Linked DNA regions of Homo sapiens: regions 1 and 2 are each linked to region 3. A link means that fine-mapping ties the variant in region 3 to the expression of a gene that starts in the linked region. Tissue or cell type: whole blood. Region 3 holds a variant in brackets; each other region holds the start of a gene. All regions are shown on one strand. Distances are from middle to middle.

Region 1 (8,104 bases), 38 kb after region 3:
AGTCTCTGACCCAGTGCAAACAAATGCAGCTCTATAATTGACATGCAGCCACCGCAAAGCCTAGCCAAGAGTTCTGTGCTGCACCTACAGCTGGAAAGGTTCAACAACCACAGTTTTCTAAACCCAAAACTAAACGAGTAGCCTGGCAGAGCTTGGAAACCCAGAGGTAGTATGGAGTATGGTTAGAGAATGGACTCCTGAGGCAGAATCTTACTTAGATTCACTAATTAGCTGTGTGACCTTGGGCAAGTCACTTAGCCTCTCTGTGCCTCAGTTTTCTCAAATGTAAAAACAGGGATAATAGTGCCCACCTTATAAGGTTGTTCTGAGAATTAAATGAGTTAGTGAATGTAGCATTTAGAATAGTGCCTGACCTATAATGAGTTCTATATATGTTAGCTACTATTGTTATTAATACTTGAAATTGGGACTGTCCCAGGAAACAGCAGATGTCAGCCGTGTTCATTAAAATAAGATATGAGATACCACAGTGTCAGAATGTGTAGCCTTACTTACATAGCTAGTATTTTCTACTATTCTTTCTCTCCTTGTCAAGATTCATCCAATACTTATATAATTCTTATTCTTCTGAACCAGCCCAGAAAATCTCCCATTCCTCTCTGTTTGGCCACCAAAACAGTCACAGCATCCTTGTTTCTGCCTCATGGCCTTCAGCTCTCCCTTCTGCAACAATTCTGCTTTTAGCAACTAACAAATCCCATGCTTTTGGTATTTAGGAAATTGCTTTTGGTTTTCTGATAGTATTAAGCTGACACTGACAGGGCATAAAGAACAGAGACGGGGACACCCCTGCCCCACTTTACTCCATGAGCAGAACATCTCCTTGAGTTTGAACTTTCTTAGGATCCTACACTGGCCAAGGCACCTAGGCCCAAGCTTTCCTTTAACTATGCTCACCCATTCCATTATAGTCCCAGAAAAGCTGCTTTCTTATTTCTCTCCTGGTGACTTCCAAGTGAATTATTTCTCTTGGGGTAGAACTCAATTCTATGTCAGGCTATCTATCTCTAAAAAGAGAAGAGGTCGCTGACTCAGAGGTAACAGTGCTGGTCTCATGCAACTGCAGATATTATCTCATGTTGCCTGCTCGTTGTTAATAAAGGCTTAATTTGAGATACATCTCAGAGTATACTCACAAACAGTGTCAGGCCCTTCAGTAGGTTGGATTCATCTAACAAACATCCCCAGGTATTTTTTGAAGAATTCAAGGAAATATACCTGTGACACCTAGAAAGTAACTCATATCCTGAAGCCTTAGGCACTATTAGCTAAAAGTAGTGTACATTAATTAATTTTAAAAATCTTTAATTTAAAATCACCTTTTCCATGATGAATCATCTCAAAGTCATAGCTTTTATTCAACAGCTTTTTGCAAGTGGGCATTTTTCAGACATTGGGAATCCCAGCAGGGCCCAATTAGCATGTTGGATTATTTAGGTAATCCCTGCACTCTACTGAAATGCAACTTTTCATCTTTGACTTCTCTTTACATTCCAACACTACCTGTTTTCAGGAGCTATCAGTTTTTTTTGTAATCAGCCTCATATCCATTCTAGGGATGATTTTCATATTTATCAACAATTATTTTCTCATTTATGCTGAGCCCTTACAGGATTTTGGAAAGTCAAAGGTGAACTACAGAGGATTTTCCCTGGAGCTGTTCACAGCCAGTTGGGAGGCATGGACACAATTATGGTTCAAAGTGATTAGCAGAAGTTTAGGTCTATCGGGGCACAGCAGCAGGTACGAGTAGAGCTCCAGGGAAGGGGCAGAGAAAGGAGACATCAAGGAGGAGATCACATTTAGTTTGATACTTTTAAGGTGATACAAGAATTTGCTAGGTAGGAAAAAGAATGTATTCATTATAGGCAAGAGCCACGGAGGGGGACGACAACTGGAAGGAGGTGCCACTGGGAAGGAGGTTGCAGTGAGAGTCTAAGGGGCAAAAATGAGGAACAAGTGAAGGGGCATAAATGAGGGGTCCTTAAGGGGGAAGATGTGCACGATCAGATTCAGGTGTCAGAAAGGCAACTTTAACCAAGTCTCTTCAGATTCTCTTTTTGCATCTCCTGAATTGCAGACACTAGGACTCAATCATTTTTTAGAAGCTAAAAAAAAAGTTCAGGCAAGATGAATTAGTATTAAGGGAGTGTTTGAGGCACCTGTGGCAGTGTTGTGCAATAGAAGAGGTGGAAGGAGGATGGCTAGGCTTTTCTTCCCTGATGTCCTACTACGAAAGGTTCCAGAGCTCTTGGCAGAGACAGTGATTGGTTCCGGGGCGGCGGTGGGGGGAGGGGGGCAGTGGTGGTGGGGGGTGGAGGAGCTCAAAGAACTCTGGAGTAGAAGCCAGAAGAGCTGACTAGCAGCAAGACCCAGACATCTCCCTTCTTCCACCTCTGTTTCTTCACCTGTGTGCCCAATATGGTTTGAGCTGCATCATCTTCAAGTTCCCTTCCAGCTCCAAAACACTGGGCATAAAACAACACATCAACTTCCAAACCCACTCTGAACACTAAACTCAATTTAACCAGACATCTTTTCAGCTGGAATGATTTGCCTTCCACTTTGTTTTCTACCTCAGATGCCTGGGGGACCACATGGAGAACACCCAGGGGAAGAGAAATTGATGGAGTGGGGTGGCTGGGTGCTGGCTGCTGACCTCCAGGAAGTTGTCACATCTGTTAGGTTGGGGCTGATGTCCCTCATTCTATCTAAAGAACTGTAGCTTGAGAACTTTCCTTTTGCTTGGTAAATACTGCCCTACACTAGAAGCAGTCGGTGTTCATTGACAGAAACAATGGGCAGCCAGTGTATTTGCCCAAAGGCAAGTCAACAAGAGAGGCAGCTGAAGGTGCTTGTGCTTGTTGTAGCAACTGGCAAGGGTGTAAATCAGTTGTTGCTTTTAGCCCATAATAATGAGATTCAATATTGTTTTTTCCAATACCTTTGATTGGTTCCAATCATATTACTTTTTCAAACAAATCTTCATTAGTAACAATCAATGCAAAAAAAAAATCTGTAAAAGTAACAAGGTGCAATAAAAGTAGATGAAAGACCTTACTTGATGTGTTAGAGGGCTACCCTCTAACACATAGCTCTTTGGTAGCTCTTCGGATAATTTCCCGTTTCCTTTTTTTTTTTTTAAGTTTATGTCGTTTCTTTAGTATGCTTTCTAGTAGTAAATTTTCACACCCCAGTTTTTCCAGGAGATTTTGGAATCAGCAGACTTCTCAGCCCACACCATAAAAAGCAAATTAATCATGTCTCTGTTTCAGCCAATTGAAGCTTTTGTTTTTTTTTACATAAACTGCCAAAAAGTTTATGGTTTTCTTAATATGCCCATTAAAGCTGGTAAATTACAGGGACGCACACTTCCTGGAAGACAAAGACTGAAAGAGGGTTAAATGAAGTGAGAGCTGTAGCCAGTTTAGACAGCTGCAGCGAAAGCGAAGTCCCCTCTCCATCCCACCCCCCAAAAAAAGGAGTTCTAATTTTCTCCACTTCTTTCACAGAAAGGATTAGATTTTCTGGGTGTCACCCTCCCCGGCAGAGTTCTGTAGCCTCGGGCACCCTACCAGCTTTTGCGATCCTCCTTCCCAGGAGTAGGAAGTGGAGGCGGCTTACCCCGGCCGACGGGAACGAGCGCGATCACCAGGGCGAAGACTAGGGCTGCGCGGGGAGCCTGCATGTCCGCTCGCCTCGGCAGAGGCGCGCTCAGGATGCTGCGCCGGGCTGCAGCCTCTCTGAAACGTGAACATTTCCTGTTTCCTGCTTGTTTGGGTCGGTGCTGACTTGAAGGAGAGGTGTGTGCCTGTTTTTTAGGAAGTGATGTAATTCTGCAGGAGCCTGTCAGACCAGCAAGGATTGCAAAAGAGAAGTTGCTGTTGAAGCACTGGTTCTATTATCACGCCTCTCCAGCCCTTTGGAGTCCCGGCCTCCAGCTTTTGAAACCGTCCCCGGGGCAACAGAGTCCCTTGCTCAGATGTCGTTCGGTATCTGGGACTGGGAGGGGTCCTGGACCACACGCATTCTCACTCTGTGATTTTGCTTATCCCCCAGGTGAGGCTCCGGGGCTGCCTAGACCCTAGGAAGAAGCTGTCCTGTAGAACTTTCTGCCCTGATGGAAATGTTCCAAGTCTGCGCCGTCTGATACAGTATCAGCCACATTGGCCACTGAGCATTTGAACTGAGGCTAGTGCTGATGGAATTTAAATTTTATTGAATTTTTATAAAATTTTAATAACTCCAAGTGGCTAGTGGCTGCTGTGTTGGATAGCGCAGGCCCAGACAGCAGGGACAACTGCATCATCAGAAAACTGCCAGACCACTTCTCTCCGCCAGGTCCATTCTCCTTTCTCCACTCTGGAATGCCCTCCTCCCACCAAGGCCCACGCCAGATGGAGGTGGATGCCACACCCACACCTTAAGGTTATGTTCTGCTTCCCCAGAGAGAAATGATCTTTTCAAGGTCCATTTCCAAAGGAGAATATGCTCTGAGGGTGGAGGTAGGGGTGAATCTGCATCTCACCTTCCTTCCTTCTTACTTGACAATCAAGTTCTCAGACAACAAACAAAACAGGACAGAAACGAAATAGAATAATGGTAGAAATCCTATCCAATCGAAACAATACAGAAAGGTTGTGTCTAGTATACAGTGGAGATTAGTGTGTGTTGGGTGTTCTATTGGAGGTCCTTCCCTTGGTTTAGGTTTAGGGCCTAAGCATTCAGAATGCAGTTTCATAATCGTGGTGCCAAGAGAGACAGACAGATGGAGAGAGGGGTAGTGTTGAGGCATCAGACACATCTCATCTCTAAACCTTTCCCTGCAGATCACCATCTGAGTCATGACTTCCCGTCGTTTGTCTTCAGTGATCTGGTTGGTGCAAACGTATGAGGTGACTGGAATTCCTTAGCCCCTGACATAGCTGTTAATTTTTCTTTAATGCATTGCTGCTTTTCAATGTCATTAGTCACTGTTTATCTCAGTTATTATTCACAAGAAATAGGTTGGTGATTCATGTAAGGATCAGTTTGTTAATGGATTTACAGTATGCACTTTAATGTTTTAAACTGGCAATTAAGTCAATTCTTGATAAAATATGCTTTTTGCACCACAGGTGACAATACAGAACAAACAGCAGGAGAAAATAGACGTGCTCAAAACTGGGTGATTGATTTGAAAACAACAGAGAAAGAACTATTAATTAAACACTTGCTGAGCATGTGAATAGATCACGGGCTCCAAGACCTGCTGGTACTGAGTTGGGGTGGCAATTATTCCTGTACAAGCACGTGTTTCTGCAGCTGTGACACACACGTGCAAGAAAGCAGGCCCAGGGCTTGGGAGTTCTCTCCATTTTACCATTTATGCCCTATTAAAATATTATTAAATGTTATTAAAACATTGTTGAATCCCAGGCTGGAGGCAAATGTTTGTCAAGGGCAAGGTTGTCAGCCTTCGTTTCTTTCATCTTAAACTTCAGCTCCCTGTGGAAGCTTTTGCAGTCAGGTGTCTGTGGATTGGACCACAGACTGTCTTATTCTGTGGACCTCTGCTGAGCCCCATGACATGGCCAAACAGTTCATTACTGTTTCAACAAGTGCACTATGCATTGCTTCTGAGCAGTGCAACACTAAATCAGAGTGAGGTACAAAATAAACTGGAGCTGCAGAGAAATCCTGCCCAACCATGTAATTTTCTTTTGACCCCTGTGCTCTCTAAGACCCTTAGCATGATTAAGCTGATCTTAGGGGGAAGAAAATTACCATGATTGATCAGAAAATGGTAGCACCTCAATGATCTCTTTGCTGCAGTTAAAATCCCAGGGAGGCTGTGTGGTAGGTAAAGGGCTATTTACCTCTGTTTTAATTTTAGCAACCATTAATTTAGGCAAATAGCCACCCAGCCTCAGATTAAATCCCGATGCACTGGTGGCAGGAAGTCAGGGCCTCAGTCCCAGATGTGGGGCACAGGGGAACCTCAGAGTGAGTGGCACACAGGCAGGGGTAATGCCACTTTGGAGCCTGCCATTGGCTGTCTGAAAGCAGGAAAGAAGTATGGTGCTTCATCATGTTCAGAAGGGCAGGAAGGGACACTGGGAACCATGTCTAGGGACTCTTTATTACTTTACACAAAGGAGTGTGACTTTTACAATCAACTGTCTGTGCTACAGAAGTGACTCTCATCCTATCCTCCCTCCCTTCCCCCCGCCCCCTCCCCACCACCACTCCATGGGCCATAAAAGAAGAGGGACTCCAAGGGAACAAATCCAGATAAATGATAGGATCTTCCAGTGGGTGCAGACAGCCTTCTCCGCGTTCCTCTTCACACTCCGATCCTGCCATTCCCAATACACACAGATGTGCACATGCACTCAGATACACACACAGCTGTCTCTCACACACACATTCATGCACATGGTGGAAATAAATGAAGACTAAATGAGCACAAGCAAATGAAACCAAGCAATGGATATTAATTCAGAGCTTGCCATAGCAAGAGAGTCAGCCACCATCGCTGCATTTTGGCACAGACCCAAAGGCAGGCCAAGGAATGAGATAACTTTACAGTCGATAAAAGGAAGGCTCAGGGCCGGGTGCAGTGGCTCATACCTGTAATCCCAGCACTTTGGGAGGACAAGGTGGGCGGATCACCTGAGGTCAGGAGTTCAAGACCAGCCTGGCCAATATAGTAAAACCCCATCTCTACAAAAATACAAAAATTAGCCGGGCATGATGCGGGGTACCTGTAATCCCAGCTACTCGGAAGGCTGAGGCAGAAGAATCACTTGTACCTGAGAGGTGGAGGTTGCAGTGAGCCGAGATCCCACCATTGCAGTCCAGCCTGGGCGACAGAGCAAGAGTCGTTTCAGAAAAAAAACAAAAGGAAGGCTCAGGTATGGCCTGAAGGGAGGCTGCTGGCATGGGGAACCAGCAGCAAGTTCTAGTGATTGGTGAGGAGGTGCATATTTTGCTGCTGCTAGATCAGAAGAGGAGATAAAAATGAGGGAATCTGTCAGAAGGTGCTCTGACCTCCTACAAGTTTGATTTCTAGCAGGCTGGCTTCCTAGACTTGCTACTGAAGATAGTGAATTGGTTTCTGGGGGTTGGTTGCTGCAAGCTGGGAGCCAGTGTTCTGTTTTTGCATATATTATTTGGCCACTGTCCATTTGTACATCCAGTCTCCCAACACACACCCACAGGCACACTCACATACTCAGAAATGTGCACACGTGCTCACACACACACGCTCTCACATCGACACTCACATACAAATGTTCTGGAGCTTCTTTCTCTGTCTAAATGCCTGCTAGTGACAGTGGATGGTTCCTGGGTGTTTGGTTGGCTGTGGGCTGGCCCTCAAACAAGATAATAGTAACATCAGGTGGGGCCTGTGTATCACTCTGAAGCCAGCTAGGAAGGTGCAGGGAGGAGGCAGATTGAAGTCCCAGGTTCTGAAGGAATGCCCAGAGAGGTAGCCGGGCAGGGCAGAGGCTGGGGCAGAAGGATTAGGCTGACATTTAGCGTGTGCAGAGAAGCCACAGCCAGGAGAGGGGCTGACAGCCATCTCACTGCGCGTGAAGTGGGGGCAGCTGGAGCCTGCACAGCCGGGCTCATCTTGACCAGCCTATCTCCACCCTTGGGGGTCTCTGTCTCTGCATCCTGGCTGCCAATACTCTTCAGAGAAACTGTTGCAAGGTTTGGATAATCCTAGGGGCTTCCATGACAGGGTCTTCCAGGGCCTAGGTAGATGGCCTGGTCACCACAACATGAAACTGTAAAGGATTGTGATTAGGAGCTAAAGTGGCAGTTGACACGTGGGACACAGTGCAGCGCTCTGGGCTAGAGGGTGCTGGGGCGTATCTAAGAGACAGAGCAGCAGCTCACTGCTGAACATCCACAGTCCTCCTCTAATTGCCCTCTGAGAGCAATGGCATTCTCTGTCTTGCTCTCCAGTCTATCCTCAGCATTTAGGACAGAGAACAGAGAAGTGAGTAAATGGGGGGAAAATCCCTTTACAGCAGTATTTTTTTAAGTGCACTGGAGGGGGCCACCTATGTTAGAATTATTCAGGGGAGCTTGT
Region 2 (8,104 bases), 110 kb before region 3:
GGAGTTCTAGACCAGCCTGACCCACATGGTGAAACCCCATCTCTACTAAAAATACAAAAAAAATTAGCCAGGCGTGGTAGCACATGCCTGTAGTCCCAGCTATTTGGGAGGCTGAGGCATGAGAATCGCTTGAACCTGGGAGGCGGAGGTTGCAGTGAGCCAAGATCGCTCCATTGCACTCCAGCCTGGGTGACAGAGCAAGACTCTGTCTCAAAAAAAAAAAAAATACCGTAATTTTTAACCAATCCATAAGCAATAAAAGTAGGTCCTAAAGTTAGTAAGCAACTTTGACAGAGTGCAACCTACATTCAAACTATAGTTTGTTTCTTAGTTTGTCCTCCCCTCCTTCCCAAAATACAGCTTCTACTGTATTTTGGGTACAGTATTTTAGAAAATGACTACATTTCTCTTTGCAATATCTTAGTGAAAAACAGAATACGTGACTCTGATTCTAACATTACATCCACTATTCAGTATTTTCATGTCAGTACACATTTAAAGGACAGAATTTAAAGTTCCTTACCAAAGCATAACAAGGCAACTAAAGAAAAACAATTCAGTGGGAGAAGTTCCAGAGGAGGGAAAAGTGGTCAAATGAAAGACATTATTCTAAGACAACAGTTGGAGAAACTGATGGTAGAAATAATGAAAGTCCATAAAATTAAGAAAAGATGAACTGAGGCTTGTCCTGATAATTCTTGAAACACAAACTCTGACTGTGTCCTGAAAGTTTAGGGACACAGGTATGGAATATGTAAATGAACTGTCACATAATACACAGGCTAATAAACTTGCAGAACTCATTACTTTAAAAAAAAGGACCAAACATTGTTAAGTTTGAGAAAGTTTTAAATTAATCTAATCAAGATCCTGAATGGAGAACTTCGAAAAGAGAGATAACCCCAGGCTTACATTCATTCCCACAAAGTATCTCTCAGCAGTGGCTTCAGACAGAACGAGCCCACAGTTGTCTAGACGGACCACAATTCTCAGTATACTACTGTCTATGTCTTCTTACATAAAATTCTGCTCTATGTTTAACCCTTAAGGTCTGTATATGAAATATTAATTACTTTCATAAACCTTTAATTTGGTACTCTGACAAGATACCTAAAATACAAGTCAAAGGTTTTATAAACTTCAGCTTTAAAATAATGGAAGGAAAAAATCATTCCTGACTTAAATATCAAAGATGTATCCTAAATTGATACAGAAATAAAGATAATTCAAAAAAGCAAAGCCTCAAACCAAATAAAAAAGTGCTGTAATTTGTTACTCTAAAAAAAAAAAGGGGGGGGTGAAAGGGAAAAAATCACAACTTTTATAAAATGATTAATGTGATAAATGCTCTTCCCCAAGTAAGTTGTGATTCCTAACAACTCAAGTTCCTGAGTAACTGACATCTGTTACAGTGTCCTCCTGACACACATGAAATTGGACCCAGTAACTGAGAAGGTTAACTCCTGTACCAATAGGTACTGAAATGAACCTCTCTCAAAACAGGTTTGTTGTTGTTTTTTAAAAAAGGAATTTTACTTTCAGGGGTCCACAGGTTAAGTAGTTCTCATTCGGGAACCTATATGAGAGTACCCCCGAAACAAAAAGTACACCGCACACACCCACAGTACCAGGAAAAGGTTACAGATACAGATGGCCTCTGTGCGCACATATGCTCTGGCTTCCTCAATTTCCCTTTGCCAACTGCTGGCCAGAAAGGTGCGAGTATTCACTTTGGAGAAAAGACTCCTCCGACAGAAACCTGCATACTTGCATTACTCGTACAAAGAGCTAAAAAGTTACAAAATACAGGCCTCCCTAACACCTTCCCCCCTCCGTGAATAAAGCTAGACTCCCTCATTGATAGACTCCCAACACTACTGGAGAACATCAGCAAAACTCCAGGAGGAAGCGCCGGCATCCTCCCACTTTCTCCCCCTCAATTCCCTCTCCCGGGGCCACTCACACTTTTAGAAAAGAGCCGCGGCGCCGAGAAAGTGGGTTGGTTCCCTTCCTCCTTCGGACTGAAGCGGCAGCTGCGGAAGGCTCCGGCGCGGTACTGAGGAAGAAGCGGTGCTCGTGTCGCTAAACCAGGCGGCAACCCGGGTCTCTTCCGCGCTGCCAGGGGAGGGGAGGCGGCGGCCCCGCTTACCTCCTCTTTTCCTCTTCCTGGGTCTTTTCAGGCTGCGGCTTCTGCCCGTCCAGGGCCACTTCTCCCGGGACAGTCAGGTTTGGGAGACTCCGGATTTTGTTTTTGTAAAGTTTCCTCTGGGTGGAGGCTGCGGCCGGCCCCCCGGGTCCCCCCCGGCCCCGCCGCCCTCGGGACTGGGGCGGGGGAGGGGGGCTCTAGGAACTCCTCCCGGAGTCCAGCCAAGGAGCCGGGGGGCCGGCGACTGGCCAAGGGAGAAGACCCCCGGAGGGGGCTGAGGGGAGGGGGAAGGTGAGGAAAGGACGGCGGCGTCGGTCCTGTTCTCTCCGCCGCCCCAGCCGCCGCTTCACATCGGGGTCCCCGCCCCCCCGGCCGGGGGGTGGTTGCCGAGCTTGGTTGGGGCCCCGGTTCATACACTCCGGGGCAAGATGCTACGGCCCCGGGCGGGTGGCCGAGTCGGCGGCAAGGCGAGGGACCCGGCCGGCTCCGCTCGGCGCCGCCCCCGCTCCCGGCTCCCGCATGTGTCGCTGCGGCTGGGACCCCCCTCCCTACACCTTGGGGGTCTCGCCCCACGCCCCACGGGACGAGGCAGAAGCTCTGGCGCCTCCTCAGCGTTCTCTCACCGCGGAGCAGCTACCCACTCCCGGCCCGTGGTAGCCGCCTCCCTGCCCCCCAAGCCGCCGGCTCCGGCTCAGGCTCGGGCTCCGGCTCTGGCTCCGGCTCCGGCGTGTGCAGCCGCCGCTGCCGGCCGGGAAGGTGAGGGGGGGAAAGGAGTGCGGCCGCGGCTCCCGCTGGCCCAGGTGAGAGCGAAGGTCTCGGCGGCGGCCAGTGCAGGGGGACTGGATCTCTCGGATGCTCCTTCGCTCTCAGTCTCAGCGGCGGCGGCGGCGGCAGCGGCAGCGGCAGCGCCCGGAGCTCAGCTCGCTGTCTCCCTCGCTCTGTGCGGGGCTCTCGCCTCACTCCAGAGAGAGGGGCGGGAGGAGAGCGGCGCCTGCCGATGACGCAAGTCACCTAGCAACCGCTCTCTTCCCCCTCCCTCTTCTTTCCGCTCTGAGGCTTCCTCCGCTGGCCTTTTTCCCCCTTCCAGCCACCCCGCCCTGGGCGCCTCTGGCGCGCTCTGATGACGCTCCAAGGGAAGAGGAAGTGGGGATCGGCGAGCGGGTGGGTGCGCCTCGGGCCGCGGGACTCGCAGCCGCCACCGCCGCTGCCGCCTCTACGGCCGCGTCAGAACTGAAGAGAGGAAGGGGAGGAGCCGAGTCGAGCCTAAGCTGCCGCCCGATCTTACCCCTGACCCGAGGGCGGCCTGGAGAGCTTGGTCTGTAGCGGTTTCCTTCGGGGCAGGTGGGGACTGCTCCTTTGGGAGGAAGGAGGAGGCCCAGGCCGCGTCTTCAGGCAGCTGCGCGCACCACCCGAAGGTGAGGCATTTGGCCCCAAACAGACCCTCGAAAAGCCGGACTGATCGAGGAGTTACCCTACAGCCTGATCTGCACCTGCTCCAGGGAGAGAGCGCCCCACCCTTCCCGTGGCGTGGGGTGAGACCCAGCGTTGGATAACGTGTGGTCGGGCCGAGCAAATGTTTGATGAATGAATGAATGAATGAATGCCTCTCTCACGTGGCACTCGTGAAGCTCAGAGGATATGGTGGAAGTGCAAGCGCTTTGTAAACTGCAGTGCATTGTAAAAATGAGTTGTAATACATTCCTCCCCTCCCCCTAGCCATGAAAGGAAACAGGGGTGCGGCTTGAGTACAGAGTCACAACCTGAGTCTTTAGTGGAAAAGGAGACGAAATGCCGAGCAAGGGAAGGGACCCATCCTCGCGCAGATTGTTAGGGCGGCGGGAAGGGAGGATTGGAAGGGAGCCATCCTCTGGGAGATTGCTGAAGGATTTTTGACTGTCAGGGGAAGAATTTAATAGTCCCTCACTTTTACGAATGGTTCTTTCTTACGGTTTGGAGCTTTCGAGAGCTTCTGGTCTTGGTTCATCAGTGTACGTTGTCATCAAGAAATGTTGGCCTGTTTCAGGTCTGACTCAAAGGTTATTTTCTTTCTAAAATAAGTGTTATTACTATTATGCAGCTTTTCCTACAGATGTTATCCTGGAAAGGAAAGTTAAGTAGAAACTCATGAAGTTTAAAGTGTAGTTCTCTAGGAAAACAAATTTAAGATAAAAGGACCAGAATCCTCAGAAATCTGTCTTCAGTGAATAGTATGAGAAAAAGATTAAAGCAGCAGCAATGATGAAAGCAGATTCCACAATTCTGTCCCTGGACCCTAGTACACTCTACCTCCTTGGGAAGCAGTAGTAATGGATTTTACAAGTCTTTCCACCTGGAGGAGGGGGTAAGGTAGGAGCAAGTGTATTATAGACAAATGTGGGAAGCTCTGGGTTTCTCCCACTACTGCCACTACCATCTGCAAACAGTAAACTAAGGAAACTTTTAACTGGGTAAATCCAAGGGCTCGTGTTCATTAAAATGCTGCGGGAAAGGTGGTGAGAGGGGCAAAGGAGGATGTGGCAAAACCAAGGAGAGACTCACAGACTAGCACCTGACCCTACTGCCCTTGACCTGAAGTTCCAAGAGCCAGGTTAAATATCCTGCTTAAATTACCCTGGATTTTTCTGTCTTTACGTGACCAATCCCCTGCTACAGCCTTCCAAATAAGACTCACAGGTAATCAGACCAACAAGTGATGGTCTCACATGGCTACAAAATAAATATTTTTTGTTTTTCCCCCTCTTCCTATCTTACAACAGGGGAATGGTGGAAATTAAAGGAGTAAAACACACAGATTTAGGGGATTTTGTGAAGCTAAACACCTCAGAGAGTTTAACCTTTGTAGGCTTTGAAGGAAAAGAGTGCAAACATCAGAGTTCTGCAGCCCAGCAGAGAACACCTCCAGTTAAGTGTGTACCACATAGGGTTTTTCAGCAGCGTGATCTTCTGTTTTCATTGTCAGTGGCTCCACCTTACAACCTCAGTGCTGAGGAACAGAAGGGCACTCAGGAGAGCCTGAGCCACTTACTTAGAAAGTATTTAATAACAGCACACTAAGCTTACTGGGCTAGATACCCACCTCAGCACCCAGCTTGATAACAGGAGGAAACAGCTGGAACTGGAGACTGGAGAGAAGGAAGTTCATACATTTCCAACTTGGTCTGCATCTCTTTAGTTCCTTGTATTGCTTATTAATCCAGAGGAGAAAACAGCTAGTTAATTAAAAATTCCAAAAAATCTGAAGTTTTAGCTAATAGTTACTTCCCTGGTTCATCAATTTAAGATAAGGATCTAAATACTGTGTTAAAATATAGAAAAACGGAGACTCTTATAAGGTTTTTGACCTCTACACTTGAAAGTGAGCTCTTACAAGAAACTAATCAGTGTTTCGTTATTCCATATCAGTGGCTTTTACTGTCAAAGATTGTGTAAGCTAAATTATCTGGCAAAATTTTGCTTTCCAGAAATACTATCTATATTAATTTTAACATTTTTATTGTGAAATATAGTTTAAATACATAAAGCAATTATATAGTATAAGTGATTATAAAGGAAACCACCATGTAACCAATCAACCAGGTCAAGAAATGGAATATTTCCAGCAACTCAGAAGTTCCCCTCCCTGCCATGACCTTCCCGAACACAACTCTTTCCCTCCCTCCTAAGTGTAGTCATTATTCTAACATTTGTGATAATCATTTCCCTGCTTTTCTTTGTCGCTTTGTCGCAAGCATGCATCCCTAAACAATATATTGTTTAGTCTCACTCTTTCTTTTGAACTTTATGTAACTGGAACAATATAATATGTAATCTGTTGTTCTTGCTGCTTTTGCTCAACATTGTTTTTAATTCATATGTTGTTCAGGTTGTTCCTATAGCTGTAATTTGTGCATTTTCATTGCTGCATATTACAGTGTCCCATTATAACAATATGTGACAATATGTTTAGCCATTCTATTGCTGATGGACATCTGGGTTGTTTCCAGTTTAGGATTGTTATAAATGCTAATGTGAACATTCTTCATATATGTATTCCATCACATCTACGTCAGTTTCTGTATAACATATACCTGGGAGTGTAATATGTATCATAAACTTGAATAAATAATGCCAAGTTCTTTTCTAGAGGGTTACACAGTCACACTAGGTATATATGAGTCCCATTGCTCCACACCTTCACAACACTTGACATTATTGGTCTTTTTGGTTTTGCCAGTCTGGTGGGTGTATGGTAATATATCATTGTGGTTTTAACTGTCATTTCTCTGATTACTGATGCTGTTGAGGACCTTCTTGTATACAACTAGCTATTTGGATTTACATTTTTGTGGCGCGTTAGTATCTTTTCAATGTCTAAGTCTCTGAGATGCCCAACTTTTCAATATCCTTTCATAGTCCACATTTGAACAGGTAAAGTAATGTTATGGGATGTTTAGGGTGTCGCTTTTCTGGCCAGAAACCTCTGTAGCCTGTGGCGCCTTTGCACAAGTCTTGCTCAGGCCCACTGGGCTCATTCCACCTACTTGGCCTGGCAGGCTGTGCTCAGCTTATGCTACCGGCCTGGATCCCACACCTGCCAAGGGCAAGTACGGCGTGGAGTGGCAAGGCATGTGTGAGCGAGCGTGAGGTCTGGCTACTGCGCAGTCAGACACACCAGCTGCTGCAGTGGGGCGGGCAGCTCCAGATGCACCAGCTCTCTGCAAGGCTGTGGCTGGACCAGGCATACTGCAAGCAGCTTCCACAGCTGGCACCAGGGAACACATTGGCACCCGGAAGCTTGGAGACGCCAGGAACTGCAGGGACCCAAAGAGGGAGTCACAGTGTTGGCTTGGGGAGCTCCCAGGTCTGGGCTCCCCAAAAGGCCACAGCCCTTCCCTCCTCTTCACCCGCAACGTGGCAAGCAATGGGGATGTCTCAGCCCCATTTGTGTTATATCTCGTTTAGCCTCGCCATCTGGCAGGTCCCAAGTTCTTGTCCCGTGACCAGGAAGAATGAGGTACACAGACAAGTGGAGGGTGAGCAAGATGTTATTGAGTAATGGAACAGCTGAGAGGAGACCCACAGTGGATAGCTCCTTTCTGCAGCCAGGGTGTCCCAGTGAGTGTTCAGCTGCTAGCAGGGAGGGCAGCTCCTTTCTGCTAGGCAGGTTGTCCTGATGAGTTTTCAGCTCTCAGCAGAGAGGAGAGCTCCTCTATGCAGGAAGGTTGTCCCAACAAGTGTTCAGTTCTCAGCAGGGAGGATAGCTACTCTCTGCACCTGGTCATCCTAACAAGTATTCAGCTAGCGGCAAAGAAGGTAGCTCCTCTCTGCAGCTGGTCATCCATCGCCTGCTCAGTTCTGACTGAGCCCCGGGCCTCAGGGGAGGAAGTGCATGCTGATTGGTCCTTGGGCAGGCCTAGGAAAAAGCACCATAAGTTCCCCCTCTAGTGTGCAGGATGGGCAGTCCAATCCCCAGGCTTCAGGCCTTCCCCAGCCTAAAGGTGGGACTTCACTGGGAACCCGCTCCTTTCCACACTGGAGCCTGTCTGCCTCCTACCACTTTTCATGGCACCCAGGCTATTTCTGCAGAGGGGCGCCTGTGGGGCCAGCACAGGGCTACCCTCAGCCCTGCCAACCCTTGCCTCCCTCCCATGCTTGTCAGCGCCCAACATCTAGAGGGGGCGGAAGCAGCAGTGGGCTAGCATGTCAGTACTGCCGCAAGCCTGCACATACCCAGCCGGGCTGTGACAGTGCCCAGGCTTGACCCCAACCCCATTCTGAGATCAGAGCAGGTGCTAGGAGCAGGGAGAGGCCAAGCAGTGGGAACAGACACCCAGGGCCTGCAAGGGCAAGGGGGCCTTCCCGTCCCCCAGAGGGTGCAGAGTGCGGAGATGCCCTGGTCCTGCACCTGGGAGGGTAGGGCTGCCGCCTGCTGCATGGAGTGTGCAGGCAGCCCCAGCTGCGCCTGTTTGCAACCCAGCG
Region 3 (8,104 bases):
AAGGCAGTGAGTTTCTGTACATCAGTCCTAACTTCCTAATAATTATACTAGCAATAACCAGTGCTTATTGAGAACTTACTTTGTTCTGGGCTTTGTTCTAAATCCAATGTACTTTTCTTAGATTTTTTAATGAATAAAAAATTAACTTTGCAATATCATAATAACCTTTGAAGTAATCAGAAAGTGCCTAGTGGTACAAAGATCTGGGACTTGCCATTCTTGGTTCTCGAATGCTGGTGCTGGCATTACGAGAGGGCATAAAGTGAAGGCCTGACAGCCATCCTGTGAATGCCACACAGCTCTGGACCCACAGTGGAATGTAGACCTTCCCTTTTAAAACAATCATTTAACTATGTGAAGGCTCTAGCTCATTTTCTCATTATTTCAAAAATCTGACTTTTTTTTTTTGAAACAGAATTTCTTTCACTCTTGTTGCCTAGGCTGGAGTGCAATGGTGTGATCAGTGCTCACTGCAATCTCCGCCTTCCCAGTTGAAGGGATTCTCCTGCTTCAGCCTCCCAAGTAGCTGGGATTACAGGTGCCCGCCACAACGCCTGGCTAATTTTTGTATTTTTAGTAGAGATGGAGTTTTACCATGTGGGCCAGGCTGGTCTCGAACTCCTGGCCTCAGGTGATCTGCCTGCCTCAGCCTCCCAAAGTGTTGGAATTACAGGCATGAGCCACATTGCCTGGCCAAAAATCTGATTTTTAAGAAGATTTCACTGCCATACAATTCTGTAATGTTAAGCTTCTTCCATGTTGCCAACAATTTCAAAGAGCAAAAGGCAGGAATGTAAAAACCACTGAGGGTAGTTTTTAGCATCATTGAGGTTGCTCATCAGTGATAGAGTAATAAGATACTTAAGATATTTATGGAGTTTTAGTAGTGATCTGAGCCCTATACCAGACATATATAGTTACATATTTCCAGGTAAGATCAAAACATGGGGAAAATATTCCTTTGTAATATTCCCCCTGGCATTGTTGTTTTCTTCCACCTGCTTGTTAATCAATCTCTCTCTCTCTCTCTCTCCCCCTCTCTCTCCCTCTCTCTCTCCCCATTTCTTTTAGAGACAGGGTCTTGCTCTTGCTTGTTGCCCAGGCTGGAATGCAGTGGTACAATCATAGCTCACTACAATCCTGAAATCCTGGGCTCAAGCAATCCTCTCACATCAGCCTCTCAAGTAACTAGGACTACAGGCAAGCGCCACCAAGCATGACCTGGAATCTCTTTTAAATAGGATAGAATCCTTCCTGAACTGGCAATAATCTTAACATGAAAATGCCTAGGGTGGTGATATTGACCTAAATCTACAATAGGTATAGACTTTGGCATCAGAGCTGAGGTTTGTCTGAGTAAGACTGTGGTGGTGTGATGTGAGGAGAGATTTGGGATGGTGAATTCTTAAGTGAGGTTTAGGGGGGAGACGCAGGAAAAGGGTCCGAAGATAAACATCTGACTGCCCCCAACCATTGCCTAATAATCAGTATTCCCTCGCGATGCTCAGGCTTCAGGGGTTGCCTGGTGACAAGTGACTGACTGGCACCAGACTTCTGGTGAACATGGAGGGAGAGGATTTATCCTGCCTGAAGGTTTATTCCATTTATTCCAACAGAAGTGTGATATCTCAGGCATAGGCTCAAGTTTTCTTCTCTCCGGGTGTCCATGAGTGTTTGCTGCCAACAACTCAGTACCTCCAAGGTCACAGCAGAGCTCTGCAGAGCCAGTCCCCAACCTTCTGAACCATCCAACCTTTTTCCTTAGAACACTTCCCATGTCCTGACAAAACAGTTCTCTAATCAAAACACCCCAAATGTGGTCATTTCTATCCTCACAAAAGATAATATAATTTAAAATGAGATTGTGGAATGCTAAACTATACACCCAAACCCCAAAGCACTAAAATTTTTCTATCAACCAGAGCCACCTAGTGGTAAAATGGAACATTTTTTAAAAATTCCCATTTATTTTCTCACTCTAGTTTACAGTTACCCACTTTAAGACTGTCGCCTCCATCTGTTTTCCTTACCAAACATCTATTTATCCAAGGTAAACAAACCTACAGTTTGTCATAATTGGAAAGCTTTATGACTAAAACAGAAGCTGAAGCAACAGTGTCTCTTTAGAAGGGCAAGAAAATGTCAATACTCATTTATTTCTAAAGATAAAGAGTCCTAGGATATTTACTTTGTGGCCTTCTATTTTCTGTAACACACTTCCTCTTCTCCACACTATGCACATATCCAGCCGCGTAAATGATCTCATACGAATTATAGGCACGGAGGAGGTAAGCAAAAAGTGTTCCACCCTGGTTCCCAATCCCCCCGCCCCCCGCCATATACATGTAATCTGTGGTAGAAATGAGAAGTACCTTGGGTTGTGATTTGATTCCTTCTCTTCCTTCAAGGTAGGTAAACATTCAAAGTCGGCTAGGACAGAATAAAAGCAAACTCATTGTTAGTTACTGAAATCGTATTTTCTATCCACAAACCTGATACAGTTAAATACCATAGTTCTCTGATCTGCGTGGTTACTTGCACAAAAATGGCCTCACCAAGGAGTGATAGTGATGAAAAGATTAATGATGTCAAGGCTCTTGAAATGGAAAAAGCACTAATAACACAGATGCAAAACTTCAACATGCCTCTGACACTGGAAAGGACACAATTCATCACTGCTTGGTTATTCTGTCCCTGCAGCACCCCAGTGCTCCAAAAGCTAGAATCTGCATGTCTCAGGATAGACAGTGGAATAAGATGGCTTCGCCTGAGGTTCCAACGTGTCTGCAGAATGATTTCCATCAGATTGCACGGTAGGAAAGAATTGGGTAAAGTGGGAAAACAGCTGATCTTCCTATGGTCATGAGTTCTTTTCTATTACACCACTCGTTATTTTTAAGGGCAAAAAAATTCTTTGATTCTATCACCTATGTGTCAAAATAACTCAGCTTTAGTTGTCAAATAGAAATGCCTTTTCCAGTTTTCTGGTTTTAGTGAGTATGACAGAATCATGATTTTATATTTCACAAAATCTCTGGCACAAAACGTAATACAACAACATAGCAAGAAGAGATTGCCTTTCTGTGGTGAATTTTTTTCTTCTACCTTTTTTTTTTTTTTTTTTGCATTTTCCAAATTCTACTATGTATGCATATTACTTTTAGCAACTGAAAAACAACAAAACGAGACTCCTGAAGGACTATCTCAATGACCCGCCCCATCCTCAAATAGAATGGCTTTACAGAGTCCTTCTTTCCTCAATATGAAAAACTGTTAGAAATTGTACAAGTTAGCTGAGTGGCTCTTTTTTGAAATCACACCTTGATAAGCCTCTGGTAGCAATAATTCTTTTTTTTTTTTTTTTTTTTTTTTTTTTTTTTTTGTTGAGATGGAGTCTCGCTCTGTCACCCAGGCTGGAGTGCAGTGGCACAATCTCGGCTCACTGCAACCTCCGCCTCCTGGGTTCAAGCTATTCTCCTGCCTCAGCCTCCCTAGTAGCTGGGAGTACAGACATGTGCCACACCCAGCTAATTTTGTATTTTCAGTAGAGATGGTGTTTCACCATGTTGGCCAGGCTGGTTTCGAACTCCTGACCTCAGGTTATCCACCCGCCTCGGCCTCCAAAAGTGCTGGGATTATAGGCGTGAGCCACCGTGCCTGGCCTGGTAGTAATAGTTCTTATAACCAGTCTCTGAATTTTCTAACTCTACTGTAGAGTGTTGAATTTGACAGACCCTAGGGTATTTTTTTAAGATAAATGGTAAAAAATACAAATGACATGATAATGCTGGGTTTTATTCATTTAATCTAAGTAGTAAAAATAATTAATTTTTAAAGGGAATTTGAAAAAGAAAAAGCAGCTGTCATCATTTTAAAGTCCCATTATTGATTTACTAAAAAGTAAGGAACATATACTTCCATTACTGCCAGATATCAATTGGAAATTGTTATATGGGGTATGTATATCACCATCTACATGAGCAATGTCCAATAGAGCATTCTAAAGTGATAGAAATATTCTACATTACACTGTCCACTTAGTAGCCATTGGCTACTAAACACTCAATATTTTTTAATTTTAATTTTAATTAATTTAAATTTAAATAGCCACATTTGGTGATTATCTATTACGTTGAACAGCACAGATCTATGGATACTACATTTGATAAAGTTTTATATCCATAGTCAGTTTAAAATTGTAGATCTTTAAATTCTGTAATGTATAAGGTAATGCCAGATGCTAACTTTTTCCAGATCATTTGGCCTCAGAGATTTCCTTTCTTGAATAAAATACCATTTTCTGCTTCAAAAAGACCATTTCAACAACTTGTACAGAAATAAAAACAAGTGGCAACAATTAAGCTGAATATTTAAGTATTGTCAGACCAGGTTTATTATCTGCATGTACCAGATCTAATGTGGGATTGGGTTCTTCTGTCTCACTCCAGGATTTATTGAGATATTTATAAAGCTGTTGCAGCCTTCTGTTACTAGAGAGGAAAGAAAAAAAACAACTTTAGGTTACCACATACCATTTCTATTCATGCTGTTCATCCATTTATCAAGCTCTTCCATTTCAATTTCCATAACAGAGGGTGTATCTTCCTCAAAAATAGGGCTAGAAATAGAGAGCAAAAGACTTGTTAGAAAGAAATGTGAAAGATGCCTAATTTCATTTGGAAAGAGACTAGAATGCTGATCCTGAGGAAGATGAACTTGATTCAGTGCCTTATGCTCTAGGGAAGCCTGGGGGCTTGCCCTATTCCAAACTACCAAACTTTAATAGGAAGAAAGGCTACCACACAAACAAACATACATTTATCACAGGTCCAAAAGTGGGGTGCCCACAGGCCCAACAAGTGGACAAAAAAGGGAACCCAGGAGGCTGACTGCTCCCCTGAAGGTGCAAAGTCAAGTCTGCAAGGCTCCCAGGGTGAGGCCCTTCC[G/A]GGGAGTTGCCATATGAAGCATTTTAGCCTTGCTTAATTTCACTTCCTGTTCCTTGGGGTTTTTTGATCAGTGCCCCAGGTCAAGAGGCCACTGTCAACAGGCTACAGTTATCACCTGTCCCTTCAATTCCCAGGCCTTTCTCTCTTGGAGAAATGGAGCAGTTGCTTTCAGAAATTCACCGCCCTCACTTGCAGAAGCTCAAAGTGCACAGTCAGGGGACAGAGTCCGTGGTTAGTGGAGATGGGGTTGGGGAAGGATGGACCACCAGCTCTGAAAGCAGCGTAGGCGGTACACTGCGTAGAGGAAGCGATAAAGTTTCTAAACCAGGAGGCTGCTTGGAAGATGGGGAGGATATGGCATCACCCCAGAACATGCTTCTGAGTGGAGGCTTGTTTTTCTCTCTCCCACCCCTCCTTCCCTCCCTCCTCTCCCTTCCTCCTGCTCCTCCCACTCTTCCCTTCTCCTCCTCTCTCTCTCCCATCCCTGGGGGTTCTTGCTGTGTGAACTTCTGCTTCGACCAGGGCTCCCTGCTAAATACCAGCTCAAGTATCTTTCCTGGTGATAAAATTTCTAATCAGAGTAAATGAACCAATGTCCTTGAAATACAGCTAGGGATAGAATATTTAACTGCTATGCACTTGAAATTGGTAGCAGTCAGGATTCTTTTCTGAATGTAGGACAATGAAATAAAACAGATGCCAAGCTGTCTTTGCCCAGATCACACTCACACGCTGGATAGGGTTTGGGGATGCCAGCACATCCTCCCTCAGGCTGCCAAGGATCTCCAACCCCGCCTGGGAAGCAGGAGAGTCCCGCAAGATGTCAGAACAAAAACACCTGAAAAGGCAGCTGTCCACCTTAACAGTTGCTGTTCACACCCCAGGTGGATCAGAAGCAGCAGGGAAAACTTACACTTTCACGTTTTCACTTCCCAGTTCATCTAAAAGGAAATGAACATAAAGGTCATGTTAGCTTTGTTCTTCTGTAACAACTTTTAATTTCAACAACAGCTGAAGTCTCCTTTACAAAGAGAGCAAAATGACATTAAGTAACATTTTTAAAGGAGCGATCATTAACTTAGAGTCAAAGAAGTGTGGATTGCCATATTAAAACGAGGTCCTAATCCGTGTGAAATCTGCTTTCTTTTAGATGTGGATGGTCTGCTGAGAACGCTCACTTCAGACCAGATGTTCATCCGTCTTTATTTTTTACATCCACAAGAAGAGGAAAACATTGGTAAGGAAAGGCAAGGGAGGGTGAAACAAGAGGGCTTGCTCCTTGGCCTCCTTCAGTAAAATGTCCCAGATCTAAAGGCTGCTGCTTCATCTCCTGTGATACACCATGCTGAACACTGTGACACTGTGCCTCACTCCTGGTGGAGGATGTGGGATCTTCCATCAAGGGCTCCCCTTGGAATTTTCCTTTTACCCCTGCTCTTGGCATGGCTGGATCCCTCACAACTTCAGGGTCCCAGCTTAAATACTCTTTCCTCGGGGAGGCCTTCCCCACCTACTCTATTTAAAGAAGGGCCCATCTTTCCTGTTGCTCCCCAGCTCAGCACCTTGCTTGCATCTTTCATAATATTGGCCACAATTTCTCATTGGTCAACCCGTCTGTTTGATTTTTTTTTTTCTGTCTGTCTCTCTCACTAGACAAAGTACAAAGGGGCAGGGATCGTGTCTGTCTTATTTATCGTGGTATCCCCTCAGCTCTGAGCCAGCTACCACAGTACCTTGTAAATGCCTAGTCAATATCAGTGGAATAAATGATTAGGTGTTAACCTCAATTGTCCAGCACTGGGGTTCAATTCATGTCCAATATTTCAGACTTAGCATAGTGAAACTTCCAACAAGCCTGTTTTTAGTTCCTGTTGGTTGAGGTGAGAGTCAGGTAACTGTTTACAAAATGGCTGTAATGCACATCAGACTCCAAATGAACAAGTGGTGAGAATTGGAGCCTGATGTCCCAGCTGAAGCCCTGTTTCATTTGGCAGGAGAACCAACACATCCAGAGAAATGAGGCAATGATGTTGAGTGGATAGCATAGGCCTGCTGCACCATTCATCATGTGAAACCTATTGAAAAGCAAACCACTTTGTAGGGGCCCACCAAATAGTCAGAGGTTTCTGATCCTTGGCACTTAAAGGCCTCCTATTGTCTGTCCTGGAGAAATGGAGGTCCTCAGTGAAGGAACACAACCAGCAGACACCTGGAACTGAGTTCCTGGCAGCAGTGAGCTGCTGTAATTTCCTGTGGGTTGGCAAGCTTGAATGGCATTGCTAATCCAGGAAAGCTGGGCACAGATGTAAGTTTCATGCCATCACCGCTTGCCTTCCAGGAGCTGCAGGCTATGTCCTCCTGCCCTCCAGTAGGCATCTAAAGCTTCCTGCAGATGCCTGACTCCTCAGAAACTTAGATGGGGGAAAGGAGAATACACACACACACACACACACACACACACACACACACACACACACAGACACCACAAACCCACACTTTCTATCTAAAATATAAAGGCTATTTCCTTAAGGAATTTTAATATAAATAAAGCTCCTACACAATTGAACATCCCTGCAGGTGACCCGTAAAGCTCCTCCTGTTTTGTCACTCCCTCCTCCTCCCTCTCCCTTTTCCCCTGCTGAATAAACCCCTGACTATTTTCCCAGACAGCAAGTGGCTGCATGGCCCCACCGTTGTGGGCATGGATATATCTTTATAATCCGGGTTCCCCACAGGCTTCAGGGTGAGCAAAAGCTAGCCTGCAAGCAGATGAAGGAAAACTTTTAAAAGCCATCACAAAAGTGCTCCAGATGCACCAAATGTGAAGCTCCTGTAATCAGTTTGAAAACAGAGCAAAAAGCTTTCTACGGCCTCATCTTCCCTGCTCCATGGCTATTACCTCTGCTCCAGCCACCATGGCAACAGAAAAACATCTGGGAGGGCACACAAAGAGCAGAGCATTAAACCAGGAGGAAGACCAATTACTTGTCCTCAGCAATCAGGCCCTGCCCGCTCCACTCCACCTGGCCTATATATATTTATGAATAGCCACCTATTCCCTTTGCAACCAGGAGGCAAATGCAGCTCTTACAAAGCTCCATCTCAAACCCCTATTCCATTTTCCCTCCAACAATCCTTCCATTTCATCTCCTCCAACC

The links. PIP is the estimated chance that this variant, and not a neighbour inherited with it, causes the effect.
Region 1: TMEM154 starts here. The variant in region 3 is fine-mapped to the expression of TMEM154 in whole blood (TOPMed, PIP above 0.99). The same link has a PIP of 0.9 or more in T cells and blood mononuclear cells.
Region 2: it holds the start of FBXW7, and the variant in region 3 is fine-mapped to the expression of FBXW7 in whole blood (TOPMed, PIP above 0.99). The same link has a PIP of 0.9 or more in blood mononuclear cells.

Annotation. Positions count from the first base shown.
Region 1 is chr4:152,676,225-152,684,328 of GRCh38, forward strand. It overlaps TMEM154 (transmembrane protein 154), which reads right to left and starts at 3,773. Exons shown (of 7, transcript NM_152680.3): 1 at 3,646-3,773. The coding sequence starts at 3,709. It overlaps LOC105377495 (a long non-coding RNA gene), which reads left to right and starts at 3,861. Exons shown (of 4, transcript XR_939359.3): 1 at 3,861-4,080; 2 at 4,363-4,449; 3 at 4,851-4,916; 4 at 5,139-5,438. RefSeq lists enhancers at 250-339, 3,407-4,236, 3,547-3,856.
Region 2 is chr4:152,532,978-152,541,081 of GRCh38, forward strand. It overlaps FBXW7 (F-box and WD repeat domain containing 7), which reads right to left and starts at 3,115. Exons shown (of 14, transcript NM_001349798.2): 1 at 2,150-3,115; 2 at 1,964-2,056. MIR4453HG (MIR4453 host gene) reads left to right here and starts at 3,287. Exons shown (of 1, transcript NR_033797.2): 1 at 3,287-6,286. It overlaps MIR4453 (microRNA 4453), which reads left to right and starts at 3,451; the gene lies at 3,451-3,539. RefSeq lists enhancers at 1,461-1,560, 2,810-3,345, 3,051-3,410 and a silencer at 2,151-2,940.
Region 3 is chr4:152,638,556-152,646,659 of GRCh38, forward strand. TMEM154 (transmembrane protein 154) reads right to left here. Exons shown (of 7, transcript NM_152680.3): 4 at 5,860-5,887; 5 at 4,533-4,618; 6 at 2,373-2,430. Among named protein-coding and RNA genes, the nearest start is that of TMEM154, 37 kb to the right of the region's middle. RefSeq lists enhancers at 4,659-4,728, 5,874-5,933. The variant G/A (reference allele first, on the strand shown) is at 4,947.